3 linked regions of the Homo sapiens genome follow. The protein of the gene in region 3 interacts with the protein of the main gene of each other region in a pairwise test. Each region holds a gene or a part of one and is shown on either strand. Other genes may lie near its edges.

Region 1 (9,803 bases), on a different chromosome or scaffold from region 3:
TCCCTCCCCACTCCCCCGACCCCACGACAGGCCCCGGTGTGTGGTAGGAACAACCCTCTTCTACCCAGTATTTCCCTGTCTCTTGTCTGAATCAAAGAGAAAGTGAAATGATCTAGTATATTTGAATTAAGGATTCACAGAATGTTAAGTATATCTACTATTGTACTTTCCAATTAAAATTACTATAAAACTTCATGGCAGGGACTATTAATTAATCATTTATTTGAACATATGTTTACTGATCACTGCAGATGTCCAAGGCACAATTCTATTTTCTGGGGACCAATGGTTAATGAATTATACAAGCATTTAGCTTATATTATAGTAGAAGGTGGTCAGCACAGATAGTAAAGAAACATAGAAAGCAAAGATCAAGATAATTGTATATCATGGAAAGTGTTATGAATGAAGAAAAGTGATATAATCGAGTTCTTCTGGACAGGCTCAAGCAGACCCTCGTTGTGCTCATGAGGATTGGTTTGTTTAAGCTTCACTGTCAGTGCTTGGACAATTGCCCAGGTTTCTTCCATTTTTAATATGATCCAGAATAATCCAAACTTGCTTCTACGATGACAGCTGCCATTTATTGCTCTTTCTATATGCTTTTATCAGTTATATTTGTGGCAGGAATTAAATTTATGACAGATTTACTATTAAGAAAAATAAAGCACAGAGGTTCAATAACTTGCCGAAAGCCACAAGGCAAGTAAGTGTTGCTCCAGGATTTGAATCAATTTGTCTGTCTTCATAGTGCTTCATTTTAATTGGGATATTTTATTATGCTGGTCAGGTATATTCACCTGATGGGGTAAATATATTAATACATTTCAAAATAAATTCCATCCTATATTCATCCTCTGTCTCCTTCTTGTGGCCATTTATTTTCCTTCTGCTTTTAGTTTATTTTTGTTTCCTTTAAGTCTTTGATACCTCTGGCTTTCATCTTCACTTTTCCCTATTTCTTTTTTGTAAATAATTCGGAATTAATTGTCATTCTTGCCATTCTCTGGGTACTTTCCCATTTAAACCCCACTTTAAAAGTGTCCTCTGAAATAGGCATGAAATGTGAGAACAGAAAGAACAGAGTGAGAATGAATCCTTCTGTCATGTTAACTCAATATTTCTTTTAAGATCTTCTAAATCAATAATACTTCCACATTTAATAACTGTGTTTCCATATTTTCCAAGGTGAACAATATTTTCTGACAAGTTTAATTCATGTGAGAGCAGCAAGAATTGTCAAAGGTGATTCCAAGTTTTTAGCTGAGAAACTGTACGTATGGAGTGTACATTTGTTAAGATGAAGAAACACATTGGGAAAAGGTACCCATTTTTTGATGTGTTAAGCTAGAAAATCCTATAATATATCAAAGTGAATATGCCAAGAATCCATTCAGATACGTGGTCCTGTAGATCAAGCGCTGGTATGGAGATAACAATTTTTGGACATTATCAATGTATGGCTGTTATCTCAAGGCACGAATCTATAAGAAATTAATTCCCATTCTGGCCATTCTCTGGGTACTATTCAATTTAGTTCATTCCAGGATAAGTTTTTTGTTTTTTTTTTAAGAAGACCAAGAATTGAACTCTAGGACACAACAACATCTTAAATTAATTTAAAGAGGAATCAGTTAATCTGAGGGAGGATTGGGTTGTGAGTGAAGCAAAAGGAAAACCAAGAGAATGGTGTCCTAGGGAACAAAGCATTTTGGAGAAGAAAGTTTGTCACGAAAAGTGAATAATCAGTTATTTAAAATTCTGTTTATACGATGTGTAAGATGAATCCTGAGAACTAGCCATTGGATGTGTTTATACTGAGGTAATGTTGACTTTAGCAGGAGTGTTTTTTAGAAATAGTGAAAGAAGGGCCAGGCGTGGTGGCTCACGCCTGTAATCTCAGCACTTTGGGAGGCCGAGGGGGACAGATCACGAGGTCAGGAGATCGAGACCATCCTGGCTAACACGGTGAAACCCCGTCTCTACTAAAAATACAAAAAATTAGCCGGGCGGGGTGGCAGGCGCCTGTAGTCCCAGTTACTCTGGAGGCTGAGGCAGGGGAATGGCATGAACCTGGGAGGCGGAGCTTGCAGTGAGCCGAGATCGCGCCACTGCACTCCAGCCTGGGCAACAGAGCTAGACTCTGTCTCAATAAAAAAAAAGAAAGAATAAAAATAAAAAAAGAAAAAAAAGAAATAGTGAAGGAAAAAGCCTAATTAGAATAGGTTTGGGAAGATCATAGAGAAATTTTTGAACCCATTTGTTGTTAAGAAAATTAGAGAAATGGAGTGATCATGTGTATGGTGTTACGGTGAACAAAAGATGGCTTCTGCTTGTTTTAATATAGGAGATATTATATCATCTTTGGAAGTGAACATAAGTGAACAAGTAGAGATGAAAAAAATGGAAAAATTGATAGAAAGAGAAAAAGAAGGAAAATTACAAGCTTGAAATCTTTAAGGAGATAGGTGGATGGATTTTAATATACAGATGGAGATTGATCTTAGATGAGTAGTACAATTCAACCACTGTTGAAAAGAATACTACCTCATATACTGATGTAGCTGTTTTGGTATATTTGACTAGTGAAACAGAGAAAACTTCTTTCTGAATTTCTTTTTTTTCTTAAGATAATGTTAATGGAAAAGCCAGGTTATCCGTTTAGTTTGTAGAAAGAGAAGACAGAAAGAAATTTGAGAGTCTGAGAAAGAAAAAGAGATTGGGAATAATCTTTTAGGAGATTTGCAGAACAGATTGATTAGTAAGAGTGCTGAGAAGTTACATTTCAAAAACGTAAGATAAAACCAGTTAATATGATCACATTCAGCTACTTGAATGTATGCACAGAGTAGGTAGGGTTGGATTTAAACAAGCTGCATTTTCTAGATGCTTATGATGAATGAAGAGGTAAGCAAGGAAGTTGTAGCTGTGGGTAAGAAAACGATTTTTATAATTGGCCCTGGTAAGTGGTGCATGCTGGGTATAATAGGAAATGAGACATGAGGGATTGACAACAATGAGAAGTTGGCATGGTCAGTGAAGTTGCTATCTCAGTGGGCACTGAAATGCTGTAGAGTGTAGAATACCCAGAGAGAGTGGGCTGGAAACATAGGAGGTGGAGGTCAGAGAGTGAAATATCTGAAACAGATCATGGAAGAATTTCTCATATTGGAAATGAAATTGTCTGCACTCTAGTGCAGTGCTGTTCAATAGCCACGTTGCTAATAATGGAAATGTTATTTACCTGCACTGTCCAATTGCATAGCCAATGCCACCTGTGGCTGTTAAGTACCTGAAGTATGACTAGTGTGACCTAGGAAATAAATTTTAAATTTAATTTAATTTTAATTAATTTAAGTTTAAATAGCAATTATATGCCTAGTGATTACTACGGTGAATAGCCTAGCTCTAAACTAGGATCATCTAGTGGGTGACTGATTTTTGTGTGTGAGCAACTGATTTCTGAGTGTGGGTAAGGTTATTGGAGGCAAATTCAAGAACTGAGAGCCCATAGTATTGGAATTATCACCTACCTGAATGTCGAAATCACATGATAATCATGATAGGAGTAGAGATCAATAAGATTTAAGATAGTTGAAAAAATAATGAAGAAATAAGGAGAATTTGGTAAATGACTGCAACAAAGTGAGTTTTTAAATAGTGTAACTGATAAAATAAGCTACAGAAATGCTGTAAGTTTTTAAGGGAGAAAAGTATATAAAGAAATGTCTAAATTAATATGATCATACACTAATAATGATAGATGATATAGCTTTTTGGATCATAATAATAGAAAGTATGTGAGAAGTGTTATCAATCTTCTCTTAGAAATAATTAGGAATCAGGTGACATTCTTCATCATTGTTCAAGCTAAGCATCATTTCATGGATAGTGAGAAGTTAATACTTTGTTAGGAAGCTTTAAGGTATGTGAAAGAATTAAGGAAATGAGGATGAAAACCCAGTTTTTGCAAAATCTGGTGAAAGTCATGAGACGTGAGGCCAGCCAGACTTCCTGAATCGAGTGGGGACTCAGGGAACTTTCCTGTCTTACAAGAGGATTGTAAAACGCACCAATCAGTGCCACGTAAAACGCACCGATCAGCGCTCTGTAAAACGCACCAATCAGCAGGATTCTAAAAGTAGCCAATTGCGGTGAGGATTGAAAAAAGGTCAGTCTGATACGACAGAAACGGAACATGGAGGGGACAGTAAGGAAATAAAAGCTAGCCACCCCAGCCAGCAGCAGCAACCCGCTTGGGACCCCTTCCATGCTGTGGAAGGTTTGTCATCCTGCTCTTCACAATAAACCTTGCTACCACTCAGTCTTTGGGTCCGTGCCATCTTTAAGAGGTGTAACCCTCACCGCAAAGGTCCGCGGCTTCATTTTTGAAGTCAGCGAGACCAGGAACCCACCGGCAGGAACCAACTCCGGACACGGACCAGAACAGAGATAGAAAACCATTCTTAATTTCTTATTTTTGTAATCATCTATTTAAACTGGTCCTCATGTCAATGGTCTCTGCCTTTTCTGAATTCAACTAGAATAGTAAACATAAGCATAGATTTATTATTTGTTTCAATATTTTTGATAGTGGAGTTTTATTGATATATGACTTAGAGCCTCCAAACATTTTTTTGATTATTTCATCAATTTGAAAAAAAAAAAAACAAAAAACATGAACAAGTAACATATGTATATTTAGGTGTTTAGAGATCATGCACAGCGTTCCTAAAGAGAAAGTTTTTACATTGCCTTTCTGCATCTGCTTCACAGCTGTGGGGTGAGTGCACCTCACGCTGGACACCTTTGACTAAGATAATCTCCACACAGATATGAACCTTGGAAGTTTTAGATCACTCCCCACTCATCTGAAACCACAAAACTCATACCCAATCCTTCCCCTAAGTACAGTTATCTAATATTCTGCCTCTCCCCAAAGGAAAGCTTTAGAGGAGATTCCTTAATTTCGTCCCTCATATATAGCGCTCCCCCCCCATATTTTCCTGGGTTCTGTATTAACTACATATTGCTGCTGTAACAAATTACCACAGATGTATTAACTTCCGGTAGTTATCTTTTTAAAATCTTGTCCTGTGTATTCCTTGCTGTCTGCAGGATTATCCCATGGTTGTTGTTCTGTTAGGAACTTTCCCAACCATGCCAGAAGAGGGCACTCCCATTCATACTCACGTTAAGTAGCTAAGTAGCTATCAGTTTCTTCTCCATGCTCCATTACCAACACCATGTCTCTCTCTCTCTGTCTCTCTCTCTCTGTCTCTCTCTGTCTCTCTCTCACACACACACACACACACACACACACACACACACACGCTTGAATTTTCTATAATAGCAGCCAGGTGTGTGGCACAGCTCTTTCTGTCTTAATGTGTGTCTCTCTGCTTAATATCTAATGTGGCTGAGAATAAACTAGAACCAATGTCTCCAGGCAGATTAGCTAGCCTTAGATAGATGTAAAGAAGACAACCTGACTCTTTTCTGAAACATTCAGAGCATCCTCTACCCCGAGGATCATGGGAATTCCCTCATGTTCCTCCTGCTCTGCCTCAAGCACCCCTTCTTTGCTGCACAGCAAGAAACAGTTCTGACAGAGCAGACAGTTTGAGATCTGTAACATTCTAATGAGAATATCTCTAAGGAGAATATTTGGCTTTTCTCACTTTCTCTGTAGAGAAACAAATTGTCATTCTTCTCTTACAGAGGGGCAGTAGAGTGTGTCTGGGTCAGCTGAGTGACTACATCAAAGCTCCCAGCCTTGAAAAACACATGCTGTTCCCAGGCCTCAAGATATTGAAACATTAATTAGATAATTTAAAGTAGCGTTTTCTTCTACAATGTCTGAAGAAGTGACCTACGCGACACTCACATTTCAGGATTCTGCTGGAGCAAGGAATAACCGAGATGGAAATAACCTAAGAAAAAGAGGTAGGAGTTCAGAGAAGACCAGCTGTGTCCTTGGGGGAGTGGACAGGTGTTAAATGCTTTGAGGTGCCAGCTTTAATACTGGCGTTAAAGACATGTGCTGTGAAATCTCCAAAATGGGGACAAATAGTTGTGGAATGTATTAGAAAAGTGAGTGTTCCCAAGGTTGAAGTGAAAATATGTGGCTTTCAGAACCTCTTTAAAGTTGTGTGATATCACACAGTCAGAGAAATTCTGACTGCACATGCCAGAAATTGAGCTTGGGGAATTAGAGATTTCTTCTTATGAATATAATCCTTGATATTTATACCTTGTTAGAGATGCCAGGAGGATATTCTTTCAGAAACCAGATTGGAGGCTTCTAAAATAGAGAAGGTAGAGGACGTTTTTCTTTTAGATGATGTAAGTTACTTAAGAGAAAACTGGAAGATGAGTGAGTGGATTAGAAATAGATCAGAGCTAATTTTTCTTTTGTCAGTATTTTTTCAAATTTTAGGGTAGTTGAAATCCGAGCATAATTTGTAATGTTGAACCAGTAATAATAGTATCTGGGTAGTATTTTATGTACATTATATACAGATATAATTGTAATGAAAATCCACAATAATATTCGAATATTAGTATTTTCTCCATTACATAGATGAAAAAACTGAGGGTGAGAGAAATTAGATAATTTAAGCAAGCTCACACAACTGCTATGTGGGGAAGCCCAGTCTCAGTGCTGGTCTTCAGCTCATTCTCTTATGCCTAATTGGAAAAATAGCAGTCTCCATGGTCAAGACTCTGATTTAATATATAAGACCACATCTCTTATTTTCAGATATGTTAACTATCCAGGTTCTCCTGAATCATGTCAGTCATCTGAACTACTTTCTCCTGCCCTCTAGATTTATCTTTACATTTTGTGTGGTGCATGACATTTGAGGGAAGGATATTTACAAAAAGCCGATGGGAATAGACTTTGCATATGTCTAATAAATGTGGTTACACATTTTTGCCTTGTTTTGTTTTACTTTTTAATTCTAATTCTAACCTGTGAGGAAAAAGGAGGTGTGGATATGGTGCATATCACAGTGTACCTAGAGTCTGTCATGCTGTATCTAAAACATTGCGCTAGATGTTATTTGGACCTAAATCAAGGGATATGAAGCTAAGGAAAACATGACAACCATTGATATTTTAAACAACAACAATGACTAGGATGCTAACGGCTTTCTGGTCTATTCTGCTGTTTGTAGGTTAGACTGCACATTCTTTCCTTCTTTCATTCAGTATTCATTCATTATTTATTAGGTGATAAATAGCATGAATAATAGATAAGTTATTGTTAACAGGTAAAAGATACTTTAAAAAGTCGAATCCACTTTTACAAGGCAGATAGAACATGTGCCTTATAGAGACTTTTGAGCTCAAAAGCTTGAGGTGTCTCCTACTGTCAGCATCATCCAGAAAAGCAGTTTTTAGATCTCTCATTTATGAATTCAATAAACTTGAGGAAGAAAAGTGGGCAATGATGTAAAACAAAAACCTTGAAATTAGGAGAAGCTTCCTTTTTATTTTATTATTATTATACTTTAAGTTTTAGGGTACATGTGCACAATGTGCAGGTTAGTTACATATGTATACATGTGCCATGCTGGTGTGCTGCACCCATTAACTCGTCATTTAGCATTAGGTATATCTCCTAAAGGTATGCCTCCCCCCTCCCCCAACGAAGCTTCCTCTTAAAGTGAAGGAGAGCGGTGGAGAAATGGAGGGGAAACAAGGATGGCACCCTCATTGCACTTCATATTAGGTATTTTCTAAATGAGGGCATTAAAGAAGCAAGAAAGAAACGTTAGTATCGGGAAGCTCCCTAAGTGGGAGAAATAAACAAACCAAAGTGAAACAAGCACAAAGCAGTTCTGTGTGCTGATTGCTCTTTTGGCTTTCTCCAGGGCATCCAGCTCCATCTCCCATTTGGCGTCATGCTGCTCTGGGTCTGGTAACTCTTTGCCTGATGTTGCTGATTGGGCTGGTGACATTGGGGATGATGTGTAAGTATATCAGCATCAAACCCAACAAAGGCAACTAGAAAACATATTGTAAACCATGTACTTTCAGCTTGGATTGTAGATGGGTCCTAGCATCCTGAATCGTCTGATACTTTTCTGCTGTCTCATATCTCTCCTATTCGTCATATCTTCCCAAAAAACCGGCAAAAGACATTATCAGGATTTGGTTCTAAATTCATTGTTTTATCTTGATAAGCTAAACTGGACTTAGACAAAGACTCTTTGTTTCCAGTTATTCATTAGAATAAAGAGCCTCTTTTCTGCCTAGACACACATTCACTTATCATTCCAATGCTGAGAAATAAAGTCAAGAAATATGTATTGAAGGAAGTGCTTGCTATTTTTATTTACCTGAAAGACTTAACACTAGACTAGGTTCAGTCTGCTTACATGAAACTTCTCTAGTGGAGAGAAATCTTCCAAGTAGCAGCAGCAGCCTGATTTCTATGAATGAGAAAGACATATAAACAAAGAGGAAGAGTGGCCTGATACACCTTACCAAGTAAGAGAGTTGAACCATCTCCACATGACAATGGAAGCTCCACTCTCAAGCACCACAGCCACAAAGGAACATTCTATTGATTCTGACCCATCCTCGGGAAGTTGGGGATGAACATGGTAGGGAGTTCTTGAGTAATGAGAAAAACATCCTGAGAATACAAACTTTATAGGGTTGTTAAGTATATGGTATACAGAGTAGTGAATTGGCATGGTATTCGCTTACAGGGAACTCACAGTCAAGAAAGTTAATTTGCTGAATGATACTAACATCTCCTCTGCTACATTCATTTCTTTTTAATGATTTAATGGATAATTTTTTAGGATTTAATGGTTAATTAGGATTTGGACATATCTTTGCCAACATAAAAAGAGACTAATGATGTACCTTGCTCTTTTGAAAAGGAATATGATGTTCAAGCAGCAGTAACAGATATTCTGGAGCCAATCAGTATGAGGATTAGCAGCCGATCTTCTACAATAATGTATATTTAAAAATTAAGTGAAAATGCAATAACGTACGTCCATTGGTTCGATATAGAAGGGTGACATTTCTTTTCTAAAATTTAGTGCTTTTGGTGCAGTGGTTCTTAAATTTGTTGTGCTGATGAAGCACCTTAAATGCTTATGAAAAGGGCATATTTCATGGACCCATGACGAGAAATGGTCTGATATGCCATTAAGATCTGCTTTTTCTTTTCTTTTGGTAAACAAGCATCTCAGGTCATCTGCAGAGTTTGAGATATCCATTGTCCCAAAGAATGCTGTTTTCATTAAAACAACAATTACATCATCTATCTCCAAATAAAATAAAACAAAAATAAAACAATTTCATGAAAATGAGTGGCAGAATGACTGGCCCTTCCTTAGATGTGATGTCAGAAATATATCATTATTAAATCATTATTTTAATATAGTGCAATAATAAAAATGTAAATAAAATTATAAAGAACTATAAATAATTTGGAATAGAAAGGCATCTGGTTTGTTTCTTTCATGATACCTCAAATACTAAGAGCTACTAATAAATCTTGAACAATTAAGAAATGTTTCTGTCACGAGAATTATCTACAGTTATAAGAATAGAAGAATATATGAACTTGTCTCCTGTCATGTCTTGGAGTTTTGCAGATATCTAATGACATTAACTCAGATTCAGAGAAATTGAGTCAACTTCAGAAAACCATCCAACAGCAGCAGGATAACTTATCCCAGCAACTGGGCAACTCCAACAACTTGTCCATGGAGGAGGAATTTCTCAAGTCACAGATCTCCAGTGTACTGAAGAGGCAGGAACAAATGGCCATC
Region 2 (9,260 bases), on a different chromosome or scaffold from region 3:
GCAGTGAGCCGAGGTCGCACCACTGCACTCCAGCCTGGGCGACAGAGTGAGACTCAATCTCAAAAAAAAAGTAGAACATTTATATGGAGGGTAAGATAAAGGGAAATTTTCATAGTATGCATGTAGTCTGCAATTCTGAAATGAATTTTCATTCAGGCACCATTGAAAGCTTCAGGGGAGAGGAACTGTGACACTTTTTCAGTCATCATCATGAGTAACTTGTTTTAGATCGTGCCTGTAAAATAGTGTTATAAGCAATATATTAAGCAATAGTGATCGTGTGTGTATATGCAAAATACAGTCAAGTATTACTCAAGGATATTTTTTAACTCATTATGGTCCAACTATATAAATACAGCAATCAGAAGTAGTATTAAGGAGAACAAGACTAACAAAACATTGAGTATGAGGTAAATCCACATTGGAGCATCTATCTGAAATTATGCTATAGAGTAGTAGTTTTTCTTTTTCCTTAAGTAGAGATTCTAAAGTAAGTTTTTAGAAAGCAACTGACAGCCTGGGCAACATGGCAAAAACCAGTCTCTACAAAAAAATACGAAAAATTAGCTGGGCGTGTGGGCAGGCATCTGTAGTCCCAGCTACTTGGGCTGAGGTGGGAGGATGTCTTGAGCCCGGGAGGTTGAGGTTGCAGTGAGCCCAGATGGCGCCACTGCCCTCCAGCCTGGGTAACAAAGCGAGACCCTGTTTCAAAAAATAAAAAAGCAACTGAGCAACAAAACGAACCTGAAAAAGAAGGACTCTAGTAGTTTTAGTAATAGTCTGCTCCTAATTACAAGTGAATTATCTACAGTAAATCCATTTCTGCTCAGAAGTTTTGTCATGGAGATATTTTCATTGTAATACGATTTATTGTTAGGAGCTTGGCTTTTATACTACCAGTTTGTCTTGTTCTACAATGTCTATTTTAGGAGTTTGGTTTTCATAAAACAAGTGAAGAAAATGTGAAGTACAGAAAGTATAGTTTTGTGTTTAACTGCTTTAGGCTTTATTCTTCCTGGTTCTGTTAAAAAAAAAAAAAAAAAAAGAACAACCCTGTGGTGTATTATAAGATAAAATACAATAAAGTGGAAAAATAAGATCCTCAGGAGATAATACCAGAGGAGTAATTTAAATGCTAATATGCTTGCATTTGTAAATCCAAGGTCTTGGAAACAGGATGACCTAACTGGCCAAGAGTTTTGTTTGGCCTGCTTAGTATTTGTGTGTGGGTTATTTTTTGAGGTAACATTCTCATATAAAAATGCAGCTCTCCATCTTCTTTTAAATATGAATAGCCAGCCTTAGTGTGCCAGCATCCTTAGTGGCAATCCTACTTAATAATGGTTGCCACTTTAAGATGGAATATGTGCTTTCTTATTCACCACAGCCCAGGACACTTCTGTTTTTCCAACACCTTGCATTTGTGACTCTGCATTATAAATTATTAAAATTGGTAAGCTCTAACTTTGGTCTTGAGCTTTCTGGTGGCCACACCGTTAATAGAGAAATGCAAAAGTTTTCTAAAGAGCTGTTTTGCATGTGAAAAAATCCTGTGTCTTATTCTCAGAATTTTATTTGATTAGCATCATCAGTTCATCATTCTTGATTTCCGGATTGTTAGATCTACCCTTAAAAGTTTTTCATCTGCATAAAATTAACCACCTTATCATCTTCAGTGTTTTCATATGAAATATTCTTCATAAATTATACATTTAAATTTTTTATCCCAAGATAAATGGTCATACTAAAGTGCTTAACTTTTTTTAAAAAAAAATCTGTATTTCTTAGTTATGCCCCGTGGTGCCCTGCTTGTCAAAATCTTCAACCGGAATGGGAAAGTTTTGCTGAATGGGGAGAAGATCTTGAGGTTAATATTGCGAAAGTAGATGTCACAGAGCAGCCAGGTACTGTAAGTCTTTGGTTAGTTTTGTTTCTTTGCTGTTTGGGTTGATATATTTATCCTTTTTTCTACATTGCATAGTCTTAATTCTACCTTTCTTTAGGTTTTGAAAACCTAACAGTCTGCAGCTAGTTAACCTGACTTGTCCACCTCCCTGCTGGGGGCTCAGTGTGCAATGGTTGCAAAATGGAGATTCCCTGGTTGTGTATACACCTCATTTCTTGAATGTGTTGCTTTAAGGGTTCTTGAAGACATTACCCTCTTTTTATTCTTGCCCACATAACTGCCTCTGATTTGTTGTTCTTTGCATCCCAGGCCCCAGACTAGTATGTAAGATGCCTTTGAGAAGTCCTAGGACACTGTGGTTCAGGTGAACATTGGCCAAGCCACATTTGCATCCATACCAGGCTTCAGAATAAGGAGCATGTGGTTGAGTGTTTTTCTGGAGTCAAGGTCACGTTCCCTGACAAAAGAAGACCTGAATCTCTGAAATTGAGTTTTAAATTTAGTACCTATGATTTGAGGATGTGGGCTTCTAAATATAAAGCCCTCGTGGTTGTGAGGTCAAGTGCACTCCTGACTTGGTCCCTGGACAAGTGGCAGGTCCTGCCCTTAAGGAGGTTCCTTCCACAGACCAATCTCATCTTACCGTTCTCGGTAGTCACACTACCCTTGGATTCTTGGCTGTCCCATCCCAAATGGTAATAATAGGTAATATTTATCGAGCGCTTGCCTATTATAGCACTCTTCCAAATATCTTGTGTTTATTATTTAATCCTTATACAACCCCGTGAAATATGTAATGTCCCCATTTCACAGATAAGAAAACTGAGGCACAGGTCAATTCTCTGTAATATCAGTGCTTGACACATGGCTAACAATAAATGTTAGCTGCTATTATTTTTGCCTGTCTCATGAAAGATTCATAGTATTTTCCATTTTTAGCAGCACCATAAACTGCCTTTGTTTGTTGAATGTCAAGTACAATTCCATTGGATTTTAGATCTAAGACCCTATTACCTTGTGCTCTCCCATGAGCACAAGGTGCTCTTATTACTAGTAGTCTTAATTTTGACAGTGATATAAATGTTGAAGTGTTTTTATTTAAAAATGTATTCAGTACTCTAGTTCTACATACTTTTTAACTGAGATAATGTGCAGTATTGTGTTTTTTAAAGTTGCTTTAAGTACATAATTCATTTTTAAATTATGTATTACGAAGCTCAACTATTAGGTATAATTTCATATTCTTTCCTATTAGTATGTATTTAAATAATTCAAAGTCACGTTTTAAGTAGTCAGTGATTGGCCTATGTAAAACCTGCTGTGTGTTCTTTATTTGTAGGACTGAGTGGACGGTTTATCATAACTGCTCTTCCTACTATTTATCAGTAAGTATTTGAAGATTCTAAATTATGGAGAAGGATGCATTATAGTGTAATCAGAAGTAGTAGGCCTCTGGCTTGGATCATGCTGGAAGAGCTGAGGTAATCTCATTATATTCAGCAGGTATTTTAGAGGGCTTGTTTTGCTTAGTGTTATCCTAGGTGCCTTTAGGTAGTTGAGTGATGTGTGAAACAGTCTCTGTTCTCAAAGATTTACAGTTGTTTTGGAAAGTGATGTTCTTGTGAAATGGTGTGATCCTGTTCAGCGTGTTAAGTCATTATGCATCCAAAGTAGTGGTGAGTCCTGTAGGTAATTGGATAAAGGAGAAATCACAGTTACCTGGATTGGTTCCCAGAGAATATGGGGTTTAAATGAAACCTTGGAAGTAGAATTTTAAGAGTGGAGCGTAAGCATTTTATTGTGAGGACAATCTCATAAACAGTCATTAACAGGAACATGTTATGTCCAAAAAGTAGCTAAGAAAGTGCTGTTGTACAGCCTTGGGTAGAGTAATAGGTGACAGTTGGGTAATAAAACAGAATGAGCAAGATTATGTAGTCTTCAGTGTCAGGTCTATTAGTTTGACTTTATCTTCTAAATTGAGGGTATGAAATCTCAAGTCTGTGTACCCCAACATCATGTAGCTGGTAGGTTAAATACCAGGAGGTACTGAAAATAAGTTGACAATTCTTTGTATTTATAGCTTGCTTTTCTTTGCCCTTTTTTCTTTTTTTTATGGTTTTAAAATTCACCCCTACTCCCTTTACATCTATATAAATTTCTGTTCGCTGTCTCCATAAGTGCTTCTGTCCTGCCCTTCTCATTCAGTCCTTTTCCCCACGTGCCCCTTCAGTCTCTCCCTTTGCTTTTCACTTCTTAGTGCCCTGTGACCTTATTTGGAATTTCCTGCCCTTTTTCTTTTAGTCAAAATTGTTTACCATATCCTTTCTCCTGTTTCCTGCCTGTCGAAATCTTACCTATGCTTCAAATAATAGCTCAAATGACACTTCACAAAAACTTTGTGTTTTGGGGTGGGGGGCTTCCTCGTGGTTTTTACCTCTGAGTGGATAAAGGGTCCCTTAACCCTACTTAACAGGTCCCTAGTAGGGAGCTGATGAGTTTTTGCACTTAAAGATGTTGGAGCCAAGAGAACATTTGTGACTCTGACAGAACTTTCTACATTGGGAATGGGAAGGAGGAGGTGGATCTAAGGAAGGCTGCAAAGCTCACTAAATAGTCACTGAAATGAGAGGAAGGGAAGCACCATACCAGATGCCTCCAGTGATTTAAAGCAGGGTGTCTGAGGTGATGCTATTATAGCCAAAAGTACTAGAAAAATGCCTTAAAATTTTAAGTTATAGCTTAACAGCTAATAATTACTATGTGCCAAGCACTATTCTAATAATTTTTATATAATTCTTTTAATATGTGTATTACACATAAGGCTTAAAAGTACTTTCCTGAGATTTATCTACTTACTGTATTTCATAGTTTCATTACTTGGAAGAATAACAGTAATTACATTTTAAGGCTTATGATTTAAAAAAATGTAACCTCATTGTTAAATTGGGGGCTAAAATGTCATGAGTAGGTAAATAGTATAATTTGCTATTAATACTTGTACATTGCTAATGCTTTTGAATGTTAGAATTGACTGTAAAGTGAAGTGAAAAAATAGCAAAATAAATATTAAATTATTTCTCAGTGCTGGATAATATTTAATTCTGATTCTCTTTAGTTGTAAAGATGGTGAATTTAGGCGCTATCAGGGTCCAAGGACTAAGAAGGACTTCATAAACTTTATAAGTGATAAAGAGTGGAAGAGTATTGAGCCCGTTTCATCATGGTTTGGTCCAGGTTCTGTTCTGTAAGTATGAGGGCTTTTTCTCTTACCCATTTCATAATTAATTGGAACAGATAATTATATTTTATGTAAAGCATTCATACTCAGTTTGTTTCTTGAGCTGTTAAGGTATATCCACATTTATTACATGTTTGATTTTTTTTTTTTTTTTTTTTTTGAGATGGAGTCTTGCTCTGTCGCCCAGGCTGGAGTGCAGTGGCGCAATCTCGGCTCACTGCAAGCTCTGCCTCCTGGGTTCACGCCATTCTCCTGCCTCAGCCTCCCGAGTAGCTGGGACTACAGGTGCCCACCGCCACACGTGGCTAATTTTTTTGTATTTTTAGTAGAGACGGGGTTTCACTGTGTTAGCCAGGATGGTCTTGATCTCCTGACCTCGTGATTTGCCCACCTCGGCCTCCCAGAGTGCTGGGATTACAGGTGTGAGCCACTATGCACGGCCTACATGTTTGATCTTTTTAGTTTGACCTTCTAAGTCAAACATATTTTCATGCTTCTTGAGTTAGAGAAGGCATTTTATAGAAGTAAGTTGTACACCTTTTCAGGAATATTTTAGCTTGCTAGATTTGGTCATATGTATCATCAAAAACTAAATGCCCCTAAGAGTCTTCACAGTGTAATGGGTAAAGCTATCACTCGAGTGTAATAATTTGAATGAGTAGGCTCAAACTTGTACTCATGCTACCTCCAGACTTCAATTTGTCTTTTAATGTTCTGTCTCCATAGAGACCGTCAATAATTGCCGATACCAACTAAATTAATTACATAAACTTCAACTCTTGATGTCAAGCGACTGAATTATGTTTGGTTGGTTATTCCACCTGTCTGATAACTTCTTATATGAATAGTGTGTATAAACGGTGACCGTAATAGTGTGCCTAAGCACTGAGCTTTATAGATATCTAGAGGGTAGATGAATTTCCTCGTAGCAACTGGCTATGGAGTGATAAGGATTGGAAGTAGCAAGCATGCTTTCTGCTTTGCTGTTGGAGTACAAGGCCTCACTGGTCATGTGAGAGACCTCTGGGAACAGTGAGTTTTGCTGAGGTCACCATGGACTGATCCTGTGTGGCCATCTGTCTCTTCCTGTCCTCTCACCACACTTACCTTTGGAGGATAGGGAGTTGGGACAGTAATCACATAAGAGAAAAATGCTCTAGATTCTGGGGATGGGAGAAAGATTAGCCCTGTTAACACTCACCCATTGAACTACCATGCCCAACTCAATTTTGGATCCTACTGTTTCTGAAATAAATTACTGCAGACTACAGTGAGGCTATACAGTGCTTTATGTTTCAGTTCCTTGTTTCTCTTCTCACTTGGCTTTTAAACAACAGAAGCAACATGATTAAAATACCTTTCTGTGTCGAACTAAAAGTATAACTGATTTTTGTTCTCTGAAATCTCATCTCATAAATGAATCTTGTCCTTCCAGTAGAAGAAAGTAGTTGCTTGTAAGTCTATTTTCAAGCAGCTACAATTGGGAACTCACAGACCTTTCTTATTTCTGAAACATGCCTTTTTAAAACTGGCCATTTAATTATGTAAAATACTAATTTTTGCTTATATGATGACTTAGCATTTATTTCCTATGTAATAATTTTGTATATCATTAAAAGATGTCAAACTAATGCTCTTGTAAATTTTAATTAATTTCAATAAAAAAGAGGGATAGTTCTTAAATGGAAAGAATTGGCTTGACAATTGTTTCCAGTCCTTACTTTAGCCTCCCTTTGGTCTTGCTTTGAAGGCTTTTAAGGGTGAGTAAGAGTTGCCTTTTCCAACTGGTTTCATGGAACTTGTAACCCTTTACTCAGTGTATTGGAGAAATCATCAGATGAAATACAAAATATTAACATCAAAACAGTGGGAGAAAAGGAAAAAAATACTGTCAAGTATTTTTATTTATGAGGCTGTCACATGGTAGTGTCAATTTAGAAACAGTTTTCATGAAGAAGGCTTATTACAGGCATGAAATCAGTGATGTGTCACTAGTCTTGATTAACAGCAATAAAATCTGTCATATTGGGGAAATTATAGAGTAGAAAATAGTATGTATAGACAAATCTGTGTATGTTACTCAGTTTTTTAATCATCTCTTTTATTTTTAGGATGAGTAGTATGTCAGCACTCTTTCAGCTATCTATGTGGATCAGGGTATGGACTAAAATATTTTTATCTTAAACATTTTTACCACTATCACTTTAACAAAAATGAACAGATTTTTAGTTTTTTTTTTTCTTTTGATTTTAGACTTGCCATAACTACTTTATTGAAGACCTTGGATTGCCAGTGTGGGGATCATATACTGTTTTTGCTTTAGCAACTCTGTTTTCCGGACTGTTATTAGGACTCGTAAGTATTTCATTTTTGGAGTGCTAGGAAGAAAGATATTTAAAAATGTGATTATTTAAAATAGTTACATTAGCTGTGGCATATATTCTACATTCAGATTTCTTACAATGTTTATTTTTACAGTGTATGATATTTGTGGCAGATTGCCTTTGTCCTTCAAAAAGGCGCAGACCACAGCCGTACCCATACCCTTCAAGTAAGTATATTTTAAAATGTTTATTTTTTATTCACGATAGTCCTATTCATTTCTGTAATCACAATCACACATTTCACAGGTTGCTCTTCCAGCTTAGAATTCTAACTGTGGATTGTTGGTCTTTATCAGCTATGGCATAAAGGAAGGTAGAGGAGATGTATATTTCATATAAGAATGTAGCCCAGTGGATTTTGGAACATTGTTATTTTCTTGACTCTTATATTATGGGGAATTTTAACATTGCATATAGCATGTAGCTATTTAATAATATTTATTTGGTGTCGTTTTATAAGTGGAGTATATTCTACTCTTGAAGTCTTTCATTAGTATACCGGCCGCCACATTTGAAGATTATTCTTTGAATGCCAGCCAACTGTAAGTTTTTTCTGGTAGGATATTGGGAAAAGCAATCCCTATAGTTGATTTAGGATGCCACTGACACTGAACTGTACTACAGAACAATTTAAATAATTACAAGCATTTACCAATCTTGTAATTGTACTGTTAATGGAAGCATTTATATTTGCAGTTCTTAAAGAACTTTTACTTATCTGTTACCTCGTTTGCTCTTCAGCACCTCTGTAGTAGAGTGCATAGGTGTTACTGCTCCCATTTTGTACTTGAGGAGACTAAGGTTCACAGTCACACAGAAGTGACAAAGCTGATTTTAACTAAATCAGACTTGTGGCCTGATATTCCTTCATTTATTATGTCTTTTGTTTGTTTGTTTGTTTGTTTGTTTTTGAGACGGAGTCTCGCTCTGTTGCCCAGGCTGGAGTGCAGTGGCGCGATCTTGGCTCACTGCAACCTCTGCCTTCCGGGTTCATGCTATTCTCCTGCCTTGCCCTGCCGAGTAGCTGGGACTACAGGTGCCCACCACCACGCCCGGCTAATTTTTTGTGTTTTTAGTAGAGACGGGGTTTCACTGTGTTAGCCAGGATGGTCTCGATCTCCTGACCTCGTGATCCGCCAGCCTCGGCCTCCCAAAGTGCTGGGATTACAGGCGTGAGCCACTGCGCCCAGCCATGATGTCTTTCTTAACTTAGCTTATTGAGATCAAAATTTCCGAAATGAAGTCTATGGAGATTGAATTTATAGTGTACCTTGTCCTTTCATACTGGTAGGTCATCTTTTCATTTCTTAGATAGTTGCATTGATACTAAAAAGGACATGCATAGGGGATGGAATCATTTTATCCAAAAAGGGCCACTGATGTCTAGGAAAAAAACGTAAGCACAGATTACTTAAAAGACAAATGTATTGTTAGGTTTAAGGTTTTTGAAGTGAAATGAATATAAAATGTTTACTCACCAACTTTTAAATTGTGAATAAAATGTAAGATATAATTTAGTAGATACAAAAGATAGATATATAAAAGTAGCTATACCGATGGTCCCTGACCTACAATCATTCAACTTAAAATTGACTTTACGATGGTGCAAAATGAATATGCGTTCAGTAGAAACCGTACTTTAAATTTTGAATTTTGACCTATTCTGGGCTACTGGTATGGAGTACTTTTGTGATGCTGGGCAGATTAGGTTAGGTTAGGTGTATTAATG
Region 3 (5,048 bases):
TTGGATCACTCTGCTCCTTTCAATACTGTTAGCTACTTACTCTTTGAAGCTCTATTCCCCTGGCTTCTGAGACATCGCTGTGTTCCCACTTGCCTGAGTGAACACACCAGGCGGTCATGCTGGCCTCTCCTCTCTCCCTCACCCCACAGCCAGCCTTCTACTGAATCCTGCATTTGGGTAGCATCCTCCGTAGGCATTACGCCCATTTCTTTGTCTTGACTCACTAACCCCAGTGCAGCTATGCAAAGGCCTCCTCATGCACCTTCCAGCTACCTGCCTTGTCCCTGCCCCTGAATCCATTTTCTGCACCATGGCCAGAGTGATCATTCTAAAACGTGCGTCTGATCATGTTTCTCCTCTGCTGAAGTTTCCTCAGAGGCTTCTCATCACAGCTTCCTTAACATGTCATGTAAGGCCCTCTCTTTCCTGACCCTTAGTGAGCTAATCAGCCTATTATATGAGAGTCCGTGTGGCTTCTCCAGTTCTCCAGTTTGGACTCAGCGCCCGTCTATGCTCTTGGGGCATCTGGTGCATTTCCTTCCCTCTCTCGAAATTCCATCGAACTATATTGAAATTATATGCAAATGTCTGTCTTCTAGACACACAGTCCTTAAGGTAGGAGCCATGTCTCACTTATCTTGGTACATCTAGAGCAGCAGCTAGAACAGGGCCCGCATGCAATAGGCACTCATTAAATGTTCACTGAACCAAAGGGAATGGAGATGATAAGGATGTACTGGGAATTCCCTCAGCTACTTCCTTTGACCTTGGCCCCTTGGGTGCTTCCTTCCAGAGGCTCTGGGCTCTAATCACTCTCATGGGGTTGCAGTCACTGTTAAAGGAGCTTAAGACTTTCTCTTCAAAAGGGCTTTAGGCAGAACTTGCAGGAAGTTGTTGCAGACCTACCCATCCTGAGACAGGGAGAAACTCTTGTAAGTTGAATGCTCAGCACATTTGTATTGTCTGGACAGGGTCAGTGTCCTTCTGCTTAAAGATGACCTATGCTCCCAGACTCAGGCCCCTACCAGGGAGTCCCGGTCATTGCCAAAGAGCAGAACATCTGCCTGTGCCTCAGGGCCTCACTTACCCTTGCCACAGGGACCTGGTGATACATCTCCACCTACTGGTTGCTGAGAAAGTGAGTCACAGTCCACTTACTAGGGGTATTTGGCTTTTGGAGATGACTACTGGATGACATTAACTGTCTTGGGTTGCAGACAGAGGGAACCCAGCCAAAGAATCATCCTTTTCTCTATTTCAGGGTACATCTATTGCTTTACATGCAGACAATCTTGTAATAATATATTCCCTAAAACATCAGTCTCATGACAACAATCATATAAAGTGTGTATCCTCTCTTTGGCTTTGTAGATATCTAAGTTTACTGCTTATCACGGTTAAGCTTAGAGTCATTCACTTCTGAGATTCTACTAAGATGAAAGTCATACACATTAAGCTGTGTAGTTAGTCGCTGCACTTCTCTATACTGCCTCTTTCTATCCCTCTTGTTCAAGGATGGAATCTGGTATCTCCTCTTAGTCAGTGAAATCGGGGAGTAGCTGGTCCACTCAGCTCCTGAGGCATTTCTCATGCCAGATCTGGTTAGACAGCCCATTTGGGAGCCCTGCCTGCATGATGATAAGTGTTGTCCTGCCCTGCTAGCACTCTGTTAACACCTTTCTCTCTGCCAAGGTCATGTTTCCTTTTTTATAGCCCTGCCTTCATTAGATAAGTCAGACAGAGCCCAAGAGACAACTTCAGTATTTCTTAAAGACAAGAGTTAGCACTTTGGAGATGCAAGCCGTGGAAGAGTGGGGCAAGATAATTAAGGATCCTGGACCTCAAGGCAAATAAAGTGTGTCCCCAGCAGATCAAAACTGCTGTTTTCTGCAATCAACAATTAACCCGCAATGATTTCGCTCCTGACATGGCCATCTTTGCTGTCTTCTGAACTTCCTGTAGGTGGCAGGTCCTGGATGCTGTCCCATTTTGGTTCCAAGACTATTGTGTGGCTCTCTTGACAGGGGCCAGTCAAGTGGCAGTTTTCTCCTCTGAGTTGCAGGAGGACAGGCTTAACAGGGTGGTTCATGTGGCGTATTCCCACTTCTGCACTGTCTTCAAACAAAGTTGCAGTGTCCAGTAAAACAGCAGCCCAAATAGCAGTGAGGTTAGATGTAGGTGGCCGGGCGGTGGGGGGGCGCGGGTGCATTGGGAACTCTGGAACTGCATGAATCCCACACGGCATACTGGATTTATAATAGAGTCACTCAGAGCTTCTCAAAGACCCTGTTTTCAGGGAGGAAACAGACCAGGCTTTGTGCAGCTCCAGGCTGGGGTGCTGACATCACTGGACCCCTCCTTGTGGGGGGACGCTGTCTGTCACGTGAGCTGGGGCCATCAGTTTGAGCGTGGCTGCTCCACAGGGCCCAAGATGGAGGCTTTTCTTCTCTTTCCAACACCGAAGGGCTGCATTGGTGGGCCAGGGAGGGTGGCCTGACCCACCTGCATATCCAGTGCCCTTTAGCCTTCTTTGGGCTTCAAATGCAACCTTGGGGCACCCAGGGAAATGGAGCTTGCCTTTGATCATCTTCCCCCTCTGCAGCGTGGCTTCCCAGTCATACTGTCGGCTGCATCCTTATTCCTCACTTTCTTTTTCCCTCTCCACACATTTCTTTGTCTGTTTGGCAGTGCCCATAGGCATTGCTTGCTTCACCTGGTATGTGGCAACTCTGTTAGGGGGACCATAGGCCCCTGTGGTCTGCATGGAGCTTAATCCTTTTACCATGGCGTGACTCCAATAATGGTAAAATGTCACTTCACTTCCATTGGCTTTAGGTAATGCCACCACTCACTTGTAGAGTGGCATATAGATTTCCAGGGGTTTCCATACCCAACCACCCTTGGAAAGAGACAGGTAGGTTTTTCTTGCAGCCTGAATGCCTGCTGGCCATGTAGTGTGGCCTGGGAATTGGTGACAGTGAAAGAAAGAGAAATAGGGCAGAAAATGTAAAGAAAACCCTCAGGTATTAAGGCCTAGGTGGCCAAGATTGGAAATAGAGAGCAAGTTGTTTTCCTTGTTCCCATATTTTTGTGCTACCTCCTTTCAATTCTGGACCTGGAAGCAGATTTCCTTCCAGAGGTAGAAATGTTCTTCCTACCCAGCAATTGTCAGCATCCGGGGTGGCGGAGAGGGGGCCGCTCTGCCATGGACTCTCCGTCACCCAGCTTGTCCCTCTCCTTCCCCAGGTCTGTGCGTGATGAGTGCTGCGGCCATCTACACGGTGAGGCACCCGGAGTGGCATCTCAACTCGGATTACTCCTACGGTTTCGCCTACATCCTGGCCTGGGTGGCCTTCCCCCTGGCCCTTCTCAGCGGTGTCATCTATGTGATCTTGCGGAAACGCGAATGAGGCGCCCAGACGGTCTGTCTGAGGCTCTGAGCGTACATAGGGAAGGGAGGAAGGGAAAACAGAAAGCAGACAAAGAAAAAAGAGCTAGCCCAAAATCCCAAACTCAAACCAAACCAAACAGAAAGCAGTGGAGGTGGGGGTTGCTGTTGATTGAAGATGTATATAATATCTCCGGTTTATAAAACCTATTTATAACACTTTTTACATATATGTACATAGTATTGTTTGCTTTTTATGTTGACCATCAGCCTCGTGTTGAGCCTTAAAGAAGTAGCTAAGGAACTTTACATCCTAACAGTATAATCCAGCTCAGTATTTTTGTTTTGTTTTTTGTTTGTTTGTTTTGTTTTACCCAGAAATAAGATAACTCCATCTCGCCCCTTCCCTTTCATCTGAAAGAAGATACCTCCCTCCCAGTCCACCTCATTTAGAAAACCAAAGTGTGGGTAGAAACCCCAAATGTCCAAAAGCCCTTTTCTGGTGGGTGACCCAGTGCATCCAACAGAAACAGCCGCTGCCCGAACCTCTGTGTGAAGCTTTACGCGCACACGGACAAAATGCCCAAACTGGAGCCCTTGCAAAAACACGGCTTGTGGCATTGGCATACTTGCCCTTACAGGTGGAGTATCTTCGTCACACATCTAAATGAGAAATCAGTGACAACAAGTCTTTGAAATGGTGCTATGGATTTACCATTCCTTATTATCACTAATCATCTAAACAACTCACTGGAAATCCAATTAACAATTTTACAACATAAGATAGAATGGAGACCTGAATAATTCTGTGTAATATAAATGGTTTATAACTGCTTTTGTACCTAGCTAGGCTGCTATTATTACTATAATGAGTAAATCATAAAGCCTTCATCACTCCCACATTTTTCTTACGGTCGGAGCATCAGAACAAGCGTCTAGACTCCTTGGGACCGTGAGTTCCTAGAGCTTGGCTGGGTCTAGGCTGTTCTGTGCCTCCAAGGACTGTCTGGCAATGACTTGTATTGGCCACCAACTGTAGATGTATATATGGTGCCCTTCTGATGCTAAGACTCCAGACCTTTTGTTTTTGCTTTGCATTTTCTGATTTTATACCAACTGTGTGGACTAAGATGCATTAAAATAAACATCAGAGTAACTCACTGGTCTCTCTTGAGTTTTTGTGGGAACTTGGGTGTGGGTACAAGGTGCCTGTTGGAGCAGGATGAAGAGCTTCAGTGGAAAGCAAAGTTGAGCTGGAGATTTGGGTTACAAGATGGTGCTAAGGCACCAAAATCATAGCTGTTTTACAAGCTACAGGGAGCACATGATGCCTTCATGATGTCTGTGCAAAGGTTTGCTAATTGGAGACAGTTGGGAATTGCAGCTGAAATGGAGGCTGTAAATGGACTGGAAGGCACTTGAGTATTCATTTAGTTCAACCCTCTCTGGTGCTCTGTTGTTTGATGACCCACATGGAAAACATGGAGGCATGTCATGAGCTGCCCTGATATACTGGGAATGTTGGCAGAAGCATCTCAGATCCCTCACCCTGAGGTATGATATGGTGAAAGGTCTGAATGATGGTGACTTGAGGCCACACTTGCAGATAAAACATTGGTTGGCACCAACTAAGCTCCTAATGCCATCCTGAAGGAGAGAA

The links. The genes of interacting proteins can lie anywhere in the genome.
Region 1: the proteins of PMP22 (region 3) and CLEC12B interact in binary tests that used the Homo sapiens proteins (3 or more experiments, as listed by UniProt).
Region 2: the proteins of PMP22 (region 3) and TMX1 interact in binary tests that used the Homo sapiens proteins (3 or more experiments, as listed by UniProt).

What each region holds. Positions count from the first base shown.
Region 1 is NC_000012.12:10,004,905-10,014,707, forward strand, and holds the start of CLEC12B (C-type lectin domain family 12 member B), read left to right. Parts: upstream 1-5,722; 5' UTR 5,723-5,855; coding exon 5,856-5,946; intron 5,947-7,880; coding exon 7,881-7,979; intron 7,980-8,900; exon of another isoform or gene 8,901-9,618; coding exon 9,619-9,803. UniProt on the Homo sapiens protein: Inhibitory receptor postulated to negatively regulate immune and non-immune functions. Upon phosphorylation, recruits SH2 domain-containing PTPN6 and PTPN11 phosphatases to its ITIM motif and antagonizes activation signals.
Region 2 is NC_000014.9:51,242,068-51,251,327, forward strand, and holds part of TMX1 (thioredoxin-related transmembrane protein 1 precursor), read left to right. Parts: intron 1-1,788; coding exon 1,789-1,904; intron 1,905-2,022; exon of another isoform or gene 2,023-2,157; intron 2,158-3,245; coding exon 3,246-3,291; intron 3,292-5,024; coding exon 5,025-5,153; intron 5,154-7,258; coding exon 7,259-7,304; intron 7,305-7,400; coding exon 7,401-7,502; intron 7,503-7,625; coding exon 7,626-7,698; intron 7,699-9,260. UniProt on the Homo sapiens protein: Thiredoxin domain-containing protein that participates in various redox reactions through the reversible oxidation of its active center dithiol to a disulfide and catalyze dithiol-disulfide exchange reactions.
Region 3 is NC_000017.11:15,229,279-15,234,326, reverse strand, and holds the end of PMP22 (peripheral myelin protein 22), read left to right. Parts: intron 1-1,713; coding exon of another isoform or gene 1,714-1,784; exon of another isoform or gene 1,785-3,246; coding exon 3,247-3,410; 3' UTR 3,411-4,548; downstream 4,549-5,048. UniProt on the Homo sapiens protein: Might be involved in growth regulation, and in myelinization in the peripheral nervous system.